Linked DNA regions of Homo sapiens: region 1 is linked to region 2. The links come from fine-mapping of genetic effects on gene expression. Tissue or cell type: nucleus accumbens. Region 2 holds a variant in brackets; the other region holds the start of a gene. All regions are shown on one strand. Distances are from middle to middle.

Region 1 (2,914 bases), 59 kb after region 2:
GCTCTGCAAATCTTTGGGATTTTGTCCTTATCTGTAAATAGGGATGACGTTTGTCCCATTTATCTCATTCAGTTATAATGTGCATCAGATAAGATGATATTTGTAAAAACAACTTGAAAATACAAAATGATGTACACAGGTATTATTTAGTTGTGAAGCTCTAAGTCCTGAGGCCTCGTTTATATTAACAATAGCAATAAAAATAACAATACAGACTGGGCGTGGTGGCTTACACCTGTAATCCCAGCACTTTGGGAGGCCAAAGCGTGCAGATGACGAGGTCAGGAGTTTGAGACCAGCCTGGAGAGTATGGTGAAACTCAGTCTCTACTAAAAATACAAAAATTAGCCGGACATGGTGGCGTGCGCCTGTAGTCCCAGCTACTCGGGATGCTGAGGCAGAAGAATCGCTTGAACTCGGGAGACGGAGGTTGCAGTGAGCTGAGATCTCACCACTGCACTCCAGCCTGGGTGATAGAGTGAGAATCTGTCTCAAAAACAAACAAAAACAAACAAACAAAAAACAATACAATGGCAAGGGAAGAAATAAAAGGAGGGTGTCTAATGTGGTAAGGAGGGAAGGAAAAATGAAGAAAGAAGAAAAACCTATTGAAAATAGCCAAGAAAACAGCTGCCCTTCTAAGATACTGACTTGAGGGCTTTCAAAATAATGGAAATTATGCTTCACAAAAAATAATCCCAATGGTCATGGTCATTAGAATTTAGAACAATATTTATATGGCTCCCTGTGGTGAATCAACAATTATTTTCTATGGCTTCAATTTTCAGAGTTTAAATAATGAACATAGCAATACCACCAAAGAAACATTCATTAAATATCAATATAAAATAAAGTGGAAGAAAAAGAGAAAAACAGCAAGCTGCTGATTGCAGTGTTTGCAACCGAGACTCTGTTCTGCAAACCCTGGGGGATCAGCGTGGATTGAGCTATTACTAGAGGTTGGGGTTAAACACGGTAGGCTATAGACTTTCTGGGGGAGAAACCAGTCAATTTCTATTCTGAAAACCTGGCACTGCCTAAGAAAATCCAAACCCTTCAAACAGAAGCTTCGCAAGAGTGTAGTTAATGGCATAAAAGAGTGCTCAGAAACTCACCCACAGAGACTTTCTGATAGCTGATGCCAGGAACAGCAAAAAGCAGAATGTCCAGTTAGGGATAGTTAACCAAGCCCCTCTCAATTCTTCTTCTTGAGGCTATCCTCTCCTCACTGGTCCCCATTTTATAATCATGCTCAAGGAGCCTAGGCTTCTCTTCTTCTCTTACAGCATGTTTAATATCACTACTTTATCCATTCTGTACTGTTGCAGGCTGAAGGTGACATTACACTTAGAGGGATCCACAGATTCAAGAGGCTGCTTGGGGAGGGCAGCACAGTGAAGTACAAGGACTTTGACATCAGAGAGGCCTGGATTCAAGTCCCAATTTCTGTGTGTGGTAACCAGTCTGCAAGACAGCCTGTGATGGTTCCTGCCTCCTCGTATTCATGTCCTTCTTAGTTCCCTTGCGCATTGAATCAGGGCTGGCTCTGGGTGACCAATAGAATGTGGAGGAAGTGATGGGGTGTGAATTCCGAGGCTAGGTCACAAAAGGCATTGTATCTTCCACCTCTTAGATCTCTCTCTCTGCGGAAGCCAGCCACCGCTCTCCAAGGACTCTCGAGCAGCTCCATCTACAGATTCACATGGAGAAGAATTAAGGGTTCCTGCCAATCACCAGCACCACTTTGCCAGCCTTGTAAGTGGGCCACCTTGGAATTGGAGCCTCCAGTTCCTACTGACATCTGACTGCAACATCATGAGAGACCCTGAGTTTGAACCACCCAGCTGAGCTGCTTCTGAGCTAACCCACTGAAACCGTGAGAAATAATTATTGTTTCAAATCCTAAATTTGGGAGTGATATGTTATATAGCCATATTAACAAGAACTTAACCTAAGTATTGGGGGCATTTAGGGCTGATATTCATTTGGGAGGCACCTGTACAGCTGTATCAATTGTTCAATTATTTAAATATTTCTAAGTTGCTTGGTAAAAAGTCCTGTGCTTGAATTAACCTGATCTTGAATTGCAAGCTCCCTGAGGTGCCTTGCAAAGACAAATCAAATCCTCCTCAGAGGAAGGTAACATTATCCTTGCCCTCAAATTATTTCAACAAGTATTTTACAAATACCATGTTCAGCACACAACCAAAGATAAACTGACATATGGTTAAAAACAGAATGTTTTTAGACACCCAGAAGACATCCTTCACTGAGGGCTTATGTGATAGAAAAATTAAGCATATGATGACAATGGATTCAGTGTATGGCCCGGAGAAAGAAACCAAAAGTTGGGAAAGGTGTAAATGGCCCTAATGGGAAAGGAAAGAGGCTTCCATTGCTTCCCAAGACTGGGACCCATCTCTAAGAATCACAGAGAACAAATCTGTCTCCTTGCTGTTCTCCAGAGGGTAGTTGGACCTCAGATGGGTTAACCAGAGAACCAGGACCCCCAGAGCGCAAACTCCCATTTTTCTGAACATTCCCATGTCCAAGTTTGTCTGGAGAACATCCAAGTTGCCTCTTCAAGGTAGCCGGCGCCATGGACCTTTAAAAGGGACCAAAGTGTTCAGAGGACCAGGAATCCTTACTTGAATGTTCTAGACTGCAAGACACCTAGAGATTCGTAGAAAACATGACTGAGGGAAAGTGCTCCTCTAACCTGAAGGATGGAGACTTAGACCAGCTAGTATCAGATTGAGGGGAAAAAATGAGGTTTTGTTTTTTTTTTCACCAAGTATGTAAAAAAATTAAAACCCACTGTAGAATATTAGCAAGATCTTCAACAAGTCTCTCATTATACAGATGAGGAAATTAAGAACCAGGAGGTTAGAAATTCAGTCCCAGCATGCTGACT
Region 2 (2,914 bases):
AAACGCACAATGAGATGCCACCTTCTACCCCTTAGGATGGCTATGATAAAATCTACAGACAAGAACAAGTGTTAGCAAGGATGGAGGAAAAAACCCTCATCACTGCTGGTGGGAATGTGAAATGGTGCAGCCACTTTAGAAAACAGATTGGCGGCCAGGTGCTGTGTCTCATGCCTGTAATCCCAGCAATTGGGAGGCCAAGATGGGTGGATTGCCTGAGGTCAGGAGTTCGAGAGCAGCCTGGGCAACATGATGAAACCCTGTCTCTACAAACAAACAAACAAACAAACAAAGAAACAAACAAAAAAACATTATGCAGGCATGGTGGCATGTTCCTGTAGTCTCAGCTACTTAAGGAGCTGAGACAGGAGGGTCACTTGAGCCCAGGAGGTTGATGCTGCAGTGAGTGGTGTTTGTGCCATTGCACTCCAGCCTGGGTGACAGAGTGAGACCACATCTCTGAAAAAAAAAAAAAAGAAAAAAAAAAAAAAAGAAGAGGGGAAACAGGTTGGCAATTCCTCTCAAAAACTACACAGTTATACTTTGACCCAGAAATTATACTCCTACTTATATAAGCAGAAATGAAAACATAAATCTACACAAACTTCTACACAAATGCTCATAGCAGCTTTATTCATAATAAACAGAAGTGGAAACAGTTCAAAAGTCCATCAGCTGATGACTGGATAAATATCATATATGCATACAAGGGAATATTTTTCAGTAAAAAACTAAGTTCTGGGCCAGGTGAGGCATCTCATGCCTGTAATGCTGATGCTTGCACCCGTGCAAGCATAGGTATTGCACAGGCTGAAGAAGGAGGATGGTTTCACCCCAAGAGTTCAAGACCAGCCTGGACAACATAGCAAGACCCCTTTCTCTACATATATATAGAAAATGTTCTCAAATTAGATGGTGCCGATGATTGCACAATTCTGTGACTATACTAAGAACCAGTGTATATTCTATTTTATTTCATTTTATTTTAGAGACAGGGTCTCACTCTGTCACCCAGGCTGGAGTGAAGTGGTGCGATTTCAGGTCACAGCAACTTCTATCTCCCAGGTTCAAGCGATTCTCCTGCCTCAGCCTCCCGAGTACCTGGGATTACAAGCACACACAACTATGCCTGGATATTTTTTGTATCTTTAGTAGAGACAGGGTTTTGCCATGTTGGCAAGGCTGGTCTTGAACTCATGACCTCAGGTGACCCGCCACCCCCATCCCCGCTGCCCCCTCGGCCTCCCAAAGTGCTGGGATTACAGGCGTGAGCCACCGCGCCGGGCCCATTGTACATTTTAAATGGGCGAATTACATCGTGTGTGAATTATAACTTAATAAAGCTGCTGGGAAAAAAAAGAAGATAAAAAAGTGAGGTGGATTAAAGGGCCCATAGAGGAAGCCACCTGACCCCCGGCCTGGCCTCCTTCTCGGCTCTTCCTCTCCGGGGGCCCAA[C/T]AGGGCTGTGCGTTTGACAGGCAGTTGGGAGACCCTGGTGGCCGGTTTTGGTCGGTCACGTGGGCACGCGGCTGAGCCAATCAGAATCTCCCGGCAGTTGGTTCCCGGAGGCAGAATCTGTTAAACTGACAAAGCCCACGTCTCCGGGTCCCTGTCTCGGGGAGTCGGGACTATTGGGTCACCCCGGGTAGTCGAGACTCTAGACTGAGCTGTCTCGGTCACTCAGGAGGCAGTTGGCAGAGTATTCGTGGTCAGGGAGGTGACCCGTGGTCAGCAGGGTCAGGCCACCCAGGGACAAAGGGTGCTCCTGCACCGGGCCTTGGAGAAGGACAGAGCGGTGGGGACTTGGGGTCAGCGGGGGAGCCTCCGCGGATGGGGAGTCACCACCTGCCGGGTAAGAGGGGACTCATCACAGGGGCCGGAGCAAGACAAGCCCTCCCTCCCGGCTCAGGCCGGGTCCCAGGCTGGACCCCTCCCTGTCTCACAGGGCCGGCCTCCTTCGGAGCTGGCTGGGATGGAAAGGGGAAGTAGGAGGAGCTCAGGACACAGGGATTGGGGCCGATCCTGGGGTCTGAGCTGTGGGGTGAGGAGGGGATCGCCTGTCCCCTGGGGAGTGACGATGTCACCCAGCCGTGGCCGTTGCGGAGGTCATGATCTGAACCTTGACAGGTAACCCCAGGGCTGCCTTCCTGTTCTTCTCCTGGGCTGTCAGGGGACACCCTGCTCTGTTTTGTTTTTAAGTGACCAGAGACAGACACGTAACATAGAAAACGCTATCACTTTGATCATTTGTTTCGAATGGAAGAAAAACCGACACAAGTGGGTTTCTGGTGGGAAGCGCTTCCCTCCAACTCCAGGAACTCCATCAAGGAGTTAAGAAAGCACAGAGTCCTGTCAGCAGCCAGAGACATGCTGGGCAGTGGTGACCTCGGAGCCACCCCGCGACATGGAGATCTCGAGCTCCGCCCTCCGTGCAGGGAGATTCCTTTTGGAAAAAATCTCTGGCAGAGTGGGAGGGTGTAGGGGCCAGCCACATACATGCTTGCTGCTAGGACCCCTTAGCCATGGGCAGGGTGGGCACAGTGACCAGGGCCAGGAAACTTACAGGCCCACCAAAGAGTGTCAATTTCAGTCAGAAGAAAAAAAAATTGAACTATGTGATTTTTTTTTTTTTTAAGACGCAGTCTTGCTCTGTCGCCCAGGCTGGAGTGCAGAGGCGTGATCTCGGCTCACTGCAAGCTCCTCCTCCCGGGTTCACGCCATTCTCCTGCCTCAGCCTCCCGGGTAGCTGGGACTACAGGAGCCCGCCACTGCGCCCGGCTAATTTTTTCTGTATTTTTAGTAGAGATGAGGTTTCACCGTGGTCTCGATCTCCTGACCTCGTGATCCACCCGCCTCGGCCTCCCAAAGTGCTGGGATTACAGGTGTGAGCCACCACGCCTGGCCTATGATATTAAT

Which allele goes with the higher level. Positions count from the first base shown, and alleles are read on the strand shown. Sizes are in standard deviations (SD) of each study's normalised expression.
For the expression in nucleus accumbens of the gene that starts at base 1,632 in region 1, C is the low allele of the variant in region 2 and T is the other (large effect, 1.2 SD a copy in GTEx).

Evidence for each region.
Region 1: LINC00658 starts here. The variant in region 2 is fine-mapped to the expression of LINC00658 in nucleus accumbens (GTEx, PIP above 0.99). The same link has a PIP of 0.9 or more in caudate, cerebellar hemisphere, cerebellum, cerebral cortex and putamen.

Annotation. Positions count from the first base shown.
Region 1 is chr20:5,444,466-5,447,379 of GRCh38, reverse strand. LINC00658 (long intergenic non-protein coding RNA 658) reads left to right here and starts at 1,632. Exons shown (of 5, transcript NR_038240.1): 1 at 1,632-1,876.
Region 2 is chr20:5,503,234-5,506,147 of GRCh38, reverse strand. LINC00654 (long intergenic non-protein coding RNA 654) reads left to right here and starts at 1,552. Exons shown (of 2, transcript NR_015406.2): 1 at 1,552-1,850. RefSeq lists an enhancer at 1,697-1,806. The variant C/T (reference allele first, on the strand shown) is at 1,457.